Linked DNA regions of Homo sapiens: all the other regions are linked to region 1. Evidence: fine-mapped expression QTL. A gene starts in region 1. Each other region holds a variant in brackets. All regions are shown on one strand. Distances are between the middles of the regions.

Region 1 (2,677 bases):
GCTTGCCAGCAGAATGTCAGAGAATTCTTTGGCAGCTACATTTCACAAATCCCCTAACTCAGTGACTAAGTGCAGCCCCTGGAAGAATGCCCCTGAAGATGATAACATCTCTTGCATGAATCTTTTCTTGCAAAAGTTCCAGGATCCTAACTCATGCCTCTTCCTGTACATAATAAGATAATAGCTGATAGGATTAATGATTATGCCTCTACAATCTATAACCAGATGTACCCTTGAACCCCACCCTTGATGAGATTTTGCTCTAATGTAACTGCTGAGCTCATTTGATGTAACTGCTGAGCACATCTGATGCCACTTCCCATCACATGCCACCACCTGTACCTAAGCTTTGGAGCAGTCTCACAGAAAGTCTCTGAAAGACTCTCCGGATTGCAATCCTTAGTAAGACATCTGAATAAAACTAATATTAATTATTTAAATGACTGATTTTTTTTTCTTTGGTTAACACACCCAACTAAAAACGGACCGCTCACATCATGTCAGGCAGTCACAGCAAAAGCAGAACCGTACTAGAGAGGGGAGGGGGTGGACTTGGGAGAGAAGTCAGTTTTCCCCCAGAATCTTTCTCTCTCATCAGTCACAGGTTTCTGAACACACTGACTCACCAGGAAACACTTTTTAGGTTCTCAAGGAAAACACTAAGTAACTTCAGAAACTGTAAAGGTCATAGAAAACATTATTTTATATATTTCCGTATTACCACGTATACGCGGGAATCCTCCCAAGCCCCTGGCACCGCACTCCAAATGTCCATCTCCAGGAACCCGCCCTTCAGTGCCTGGGGTCCCCTAAACAATGTTTCAGTCCTCGGGCTCGGTGGGTGCATCCTTTATTGGGGAGCGCGGGGGCTGCCCGTGCCCCTCCAGTCGCTCCCCGTAGGGAGCTGCGCACTGCGGAGCCCTCGCCCCCGAGCGAGCCTGTCTCGGACTCCCAACCGTCAGCCTCGTTCCGGGCCGCGGAGGCCGGAGCAGCTCCCCCGGGGCAGCGCAACCGCTGGGGCCGGCCTCAGTGGGCTGAGTGGTCGGGGCATCGGGGCCCAGAGAGCGGCTGGTGAGTACTTGGTCGGAGCGCGCTGTGAGCGCCCGGCCCCTGTCCGGGAGGCCCTGATGCAGCCGGGTTCCCCGCCCACTTTCCTTCTTTTTAGGGGACTGGAATCCACGCTACAGTTCAGTCCTCCACCTCTGTTAGTTGAACCCAGGGAACCCCTGCTTCAAAACCCCAGCTGAGTCACTACCCTTTGTCAGTCTCTACACTGGACATCTAAGTGACTTCACACCCACTCCCCGTTTTGAGACTAGAAAACCAAATACCGCACGTTCTCACCTATGAGTAGGAGCTAAGCTATTGCTACGCAAAGGCATCCAGAGGGGTATAGTGGACTTCGGAGACTCAGAAGGGGAAGGGTGGGAGGGGGGTGAGGGATGAAACAACTACATATCGCTTGCAATGTATGCTACCTGGATGACCCTGAAGTCTCAGACTTCACCACTATCCAATGCATCCATGTAAAAAAACCACCTGTACCCGAAAAGCTATTAAAATAAATAAATAAATAAATAAATATATATATATATATATATATATATATATATATATTTTTTTTTTTTTTTTGAGACGGAGTCTCACTCTGCCGCCCAGGCTGGAGTGCAGTGGTGCGATCTCGGCTCACTGCAATTTCTGCCTCCCTGGTTCAAGCCATTCTCCTGCCTCAGCCTCCCGAGTAGCTGGGGCTACAGGCACCCGCCATCACGCCCGGCTAATTTTTTTTGGTATTTTCAGTGGAGACGGGGTTTCACAGTGTTAGCCAAGATGGTCTCGATCTCCTGACCTTGTGATCCGCCCACCTCGGCCTCCCAAAGTGCTGGGATTACAGGCATGAGCCACCACGCCCGGCCATATACCTATATATTTTTAAAAATTCAAAAATAAAACAAAAAAAATGCCTCTCCCTCCGGCTTATTTCCCGTTCCTCTACCCTTCTCATTCCCCTCTAGCCCAAAAGTCTCATCACTGAATTTACCACTTTTCCCAAGATAGTTGTGCCTCTTTTTGCTTCTCTGCTTTTGTACGCCACTGTTCCCACCTTCTGCCTATAATGTTTCTCTCTCCCATCCTCTCCTGACAACTCTTCTTTAGACCCGACTCGGGTGGTACCTTCTCCGTCAAGTTTTCTTTCTTTCTTTTTTTGTTTTTCAGAAGTTTTGCTGCCTGCTAAGCTCTCTTAGCCCTTCGTTAATTCACCTGTCATTGACATTGACCATCTTGTGTTGTATTCAATAGTCTGTCACACCAATTTGATTGTGCATTTTGCTTTGGAGAAGTCCTTAGTCTTTTATGTAGCCACAGTGGCCAGACATGCAGAAGACGTTCAATATTGCTGAATGAACTAATGCATTTGGGATAGGGTTACAGAAATGGGTGCAAGAGAAAAGGGTGTGGTTGAATTGGCTGTACCCAGCACACAGGTATGCAACTTGCTCACTTACTGTAGTATTCCTAGGAGGGGAGGAGTTCAACACCTGGAAATGCTCCTGAAAATAACCAGGATGCATTTCTTGTTGACTTTGCAGAAGTTCACTGAATCCTTAAAATTTAACTTAAGAAGGGATGGTGGGAATTGAAAATGATTGCATCCAGCCTGGGCAGCATAGTGAGA
Region 2 (2,500 bases), 290 kb after region 1:
AGTTTTACTTCACTCTCAAATTATATCTTTCTGATTCTCCTGTGTTTTGAGGACTATTTATATATGGCACAAAAGGCATTTGCAACCCATTCCTGAATTTTGAAGTAGGGCATGATCACAGTTTTTAAAAGTCATATAAAGTATAAGAAAAATACAAGTAACTCTGAGAGGGGGAATCCTGTGAAAATATCCTATGAAAACAAATGAACTTATCAATTGTCAAAGACTCAAGAAGAGATAGATAGAAAGATAGATATTTCTAATATCTATAGATGTATTTATTATTATATTGTATTGTCATATTATATAATAGATATATAATAATTAGAAATGAATGTTCCTAATTCATTATTAGAAATGAATACAAAAGTTGTAATAAGGCATTTATACACACACACACACAAACACACACACACACATTCATTGAAAGGTGCCAGGAAATAAAAAAACAATAATAACAATATACTATGTTTTTACCATAAGAAGGAATAAGTAAATTTTCATGTCCTTTAAATATTGAAGAATTGCTGTCCTTTGTATTTGAGGTTTAATAAAATGCAAGCCAATTGGCCTCAATTCAACAAACAAACATTTGTTGAGAACTTACTGTCTGGCTAACCTGGGGATACAAAGATGAGTAAGATGCAGTCCGTGCTCTTGGAGCGCATCATCTGTTGGGGAAGATGATGAATGGCAAATGCTGATGAGGTACAATATGGTAAACTCTAAAATCAGGGTATGTATACATTGCTATGATAACACAGGTGGAGGAGCAATCAATTCCAATTTAGGGATCAAAGAAAGCTAGTGAGACAGGCTCCATTTAAGTTGTGCCTTAAAGCAGGGGTCCACTACCCCTGGGCCACAAGCCAATACCAGTCCGTGGCCTGTTAAAACTGGGCCACACAGCAGGAGGTGAGCAGCAGGTGAGGGAGCACTACCGCCTGAGCTCTGCTTCCCGTCAGATCAGTGGCGGCATTAGATTCTCATAGGAGCGAGAACCCTACCGTGAACTGCGCATGCCAGGGACCTAGGTTACACACTCCTTATGAGAATTTAATGCCTGATGATCTGTCACTGTCTTCCATCACCCCCAGATGGGACCGTCTAGTTTCAGGAAAACAAGCTCAGGGCTCCCACAGATTTTACATGATGGTGAGTTGTATAATTACTTCATTATATATTACAATGTAATAATAGTGGAAATAAAGTGCCCAATAAAAGTAATGTGTTTGAATCATCCCGAAACTTTTC[C/T]GCCGCCTCCCCTCCAGTCTATGGAAAAATGTCTTCCACAAAACCAGTCCCTGGTGCCAAAAAGGTTGGGAACCGCTGTCTTAAAGGATGTGCAGGAGTTTCTCAGATTGGAGATGAGGTGGGAAGGAAGTGACTGCAGGACTGGGGTCAAGGACAGAGTACAAAGAAGAGGAACATAATGAGCGGTAAGGACCAAGAACTTAGACTGGGATGCACACACCAAGGAACAATCCAAGGAAGGGAATGCAAACATGAATGTGTGTGGGGAGTTCTGGGAACCAGGTCCAGTATGCCTAAAGCATGAGGGAGGGGGGTGCTTAAAGAGCGGAGTGGCCGATGCAGAGTGTGGCTTTTGAAGGTTTTGCCAAAAGAGTTTGGGGCAATATTTTAAATTGGAATACGGTTATTTAATCATTTATTTAAATCTACTTAACCTACTCTACCTTCTACATGGCCATTTCTGCTTGCATGAGTTGATGGGAATTAGCATTTTGCATACAGAGATTTAAGCCTTTTCCTGCCATCACATAATTCAGGCTGAAGTTGGAATGAAGATAAACAAGCATGTCATCATGTACAGAATGACAAGTACAACAATAAAAGCAAGCACTGAGAGCTATGCGCACACATAGGGAGAAAGTCTAGGGAAGGCTGTCTAGAGGTGAAGACATCTAAGCTGAGCTTAATATTAATAGCTAGTTAGGAATGAGCTATAATCGATGAAAAAATGAGGGCAGAGCATTCCAGGCTGTGGAGGTAACTTGGGAACAGTCAAAGAAATATGAGGGGAGTCATGGAATGCTTGATGAGCTTCAGGTAACTCACAGCACAGGGTAGAGTGTGGGAAGAAGAAAGAAGGAAGCAAGAGCAGAAGCTGGAGATAGAAAAAGGCTTAGTGATGAAAAAGGTTTGTATGCCATGTGAAAGACTTCAGATTTTATCCTGAAGGTTATGGGGAGTCTTCGAATACATTTAATAATCACTTTTCAAATGTCAAAACTTACCTTGGAACAGTGGTTGGAGGCAGGAGGATGTGTTAGGAGGTGATGGCAGTGCCGCACACAGAGGATGATCAGGAAGTTAGGGGGCAGAACTGAAGGCAGTGGGGATGACGGTGGGTCACGGGGAGGGGATGCTGGAAATGATTTGGAACTAGAGCTTGGAAACTAAGAAGGTCTGGGGAGCCACAGCAAGGAGGAAGCCATCTCTGAGGGTTCTCAGTTGGGCAACTGGGCAGACATTGATG
Region 3 (2,500 bases), 97 kb after region 1:
TTAGCAAATTTTTTATTTTTTTGGAAGAGTCTTCATATATCACTGAACATTTTCCCTTACTTTAGAGCTTGTTATCTGGACATTAATTTTTATCTAGAGTGAGTTTCTGTTTCGTTTTTGGATTTCGTTAGCTCTCTTTCTTACCCTTAGACATATTCACGCATACTTGGGTTTTAATGTGCAGGCTCTCTTTGAGCGAGAGCTTTGTTTTTGTGTTTCTTTTTCCTTCTCTCTCTCCCTATCTATGAGTTTCACTTTTGCCTCTAAATGACACTTGGAACCCTGAGTACAGAACCAGGTCTTATTTCTTCACAGTTACTGGCCCCTGGAGAGATACTGGGGGTATGGCAGGTTTGGCTAGGGAGCACACGGGTAGCCTAACTTAGTTACTTATCAGGGAATTTGTGGATGTGCTTCTTTTGCCCCAGGTCTGCATCTCCTGGAAAAGCCATAGCTGCAGGAAGTAAGTTGACGCATTTTGTCTTGCAGCATCATCTGCAAGACAGATGGGAGAGCATCATCTTAGTTTTTGGCCTTAAGTAGTGAGGCTGGCCGAGGCCCCATCCCTCATTGAGTCCTGTCCATCCTCTATATTCCACCAGAGCCAACCTCCCCACGGTCACTGCCTCTTTCCAGCCCGGAACCCTGGCTAGGCTGTCCTTGAGTTTCTCTCCATTTCTACTTCATGGAGATGCTTACCTTGTATTTGAGCATTCTCATGTCCTTTATCTCCCATCCATGATTGTGATGAGTTTGGCAAAAAGAAGCTTTTTTGAAGTATGAACTCACTATGCTACATTGATTTACAAGTTCTGCGGCAATTTAGCAATTTTTGAGGAGGCATACATGAGGATAGTACTAAAAACCCTTACTTGTCTAAAATGTCTTTCTCTTATGCCCACACACGAACGCTAGCTTGGTCTTCTGGGATCAGAATCCCTTTCTGTCACGCTCTACAGAGGCTGCTCCATTGGCTTCTTTGGTTTCAGTTTTTAGAGGAGAGTTCTGCTGCGAATCCGATTTTCCTTTCCAACTAACAACTTGTATTTGTTTTGATGCTGACAGGATTTCTCTTTTATTCTTGAAATTCACAAATTGTATGTTTAGATGCAGGTGGATTTCCCCCCATTAATCCTGTCAGGCACCTAGAGAATCTCTTGAAGATGAAAAAAAAAAGCCTATTCTTAAGGTTAAAGGAGTGCTTTGCTTTAATTTCCCATATCTACACAGTATTCACGTGCCGTATCTAGGTAGTAAGCATCTCTGAGCGGAGTGACTCTCTGGAAATTACTTAGCCTCTCCCTACCTTGGTTTCCTTATCTACAATATGGAAAGAATAATAATCGTAGGGTCTGCCTCACAGAATTAATGTGAACATGAACTGGTAATCTATGGAAAGT[G/A]GCTGGCATACATTAAAACATTCAATAAATGTTACTTATTCTTACCTTTTCTCTAAGTATTTTCTCTCTCTTTGTATTTTGCACCTGAAATTTTGGAGAATACCTTCAGCTGATTCTCTAATTTGCTATATAAGGTACCAAATGATCTAGTGCACTGTTCACTGCCTTTATTATTCAACTGTTCCTTTATACTTTATGAAAACTCTTTCTTATTCTCAAATTACACACTTTGAATCAATGCCCACACTAATTTTATTGCAACATCTTGAATTTCACTGGGACACTATGAATTGAGGGGTTTTGTTTGCTTGCTTTCTTTTTGTTCAGTCCTTTCCAATAATACGTTTATCTGGGAACCATTGGCCCTGAGTGCTAAAAGTTGGGTCTTCACTTTTGAACTGTGGCCTCTATGTTTCTTGTGATCCCCTCCCACCCCCCATCTGCTTGTATTTAGAAATGGAGGTGTAAGTTTTCAGTAATGACGGTATTTCTTGCACTCCCAGAGAAAAAGAGAATGGACAGTTTACATTTATTATAATTTTGCCTGGGATAGGGGTGGAGGTTAAGACAGAGGGAGCTATGCTAGCCAGACTAATTTGCAGCTCTGCATGTGTCCTTCATAACTGGACTCAGGCGTCTGTGCTGCTGTCTGTGCATGAGTGATATTGTTTAACAACGCGGTTTTTGGAAAGCATGGACCAGAAACTTCCTGTTTAATCTTGTGAAAATATAGATAAAGAAGCATATAAAAGTATATGCTGGTGATCTCATCTTGTATCTGTTGCAGGGCTGGGAACAAAGAATGCCTTTAGTAAACATTGTTAAAGGTTATTACTGAGAAAGAACAACATTAAAATAGTAGAAAATGTATATGAGATTACTATTTTACTTCTAAGACTATTGGGTCATTGTATTTTCTTAGTTCTCTGCAATTTAGGGTTCTGTTATAAGTAATATTCTCTTTGTGTAATTTGGCCTTTTAAAAATGATCTTTATTGTTCGGACTGAATTTTGTAGCATAATAAACTAACAATGAAATTTTAGGGTAAGGTTCATCAGCTAAATGTCCATCTCATTGCAGCCTTTATGGGCGAAAGCAG

Evidence for each region. PIP is the estimated chance that this variant, and not a neighbour inherited with it, causes the effect.
Region 2: its variant is the best candidate, but not a certain one, in a credible set for the expression of DNAH8 in testis (GTEx, PIP 0.77).
Region 3: its variant is the best candidate, but not a certain one, in a credible set for the expression of DNAH8 in sun-exposed skin (GTEx, PIP 0.59).

The regions. Positions count from the first base shown.
Region 1 is chr6:38,714,345-38,717,021 of GRCh38, forward strand. DNAH8 (dynein axonemal heavy chain 8) reads left to right here and starts at 967. Exons shown (of 93, transcript NM_001206927.2): 1 at 967-1,071. It overlaps DNAH8-DT (DNAH8 divergent transcript), which reads right to left and starts at 871. Exons shown (of 2, transcript NR_186581.1): 1 at 722-871. RefSeq lists a silencer at 954-1,003.
Region 2 is chr6:38,999,531-39,002,030 of GRCh38, forward strand. All of the region lies in intron 88 of DNAH8 (dynein axonemal heavy chain 8), which reads left to right. Among named protein-coding and RNA genes, the nearest start is that of DNAH8-AS1, 48 kb to the left of the region's middle. The variant C/T (reference allele first, on the strand shown) is at 1,255.
Region 3 is chr6:38,811,573-38,814,072 of GRCh38, forward strand. DNAH8 (dynein axonemal heavy chain 8) reads left to right here. Exons shown (of 93, transcript NM_001206927.2): 25 at 2,482-2,500. Among named protein-coding and RNA genes, the nearest start is that of DNAH8, 98 kb to the left of the region's middle. The variant G/A (reference allele first, on the strand shown) is at 1,401.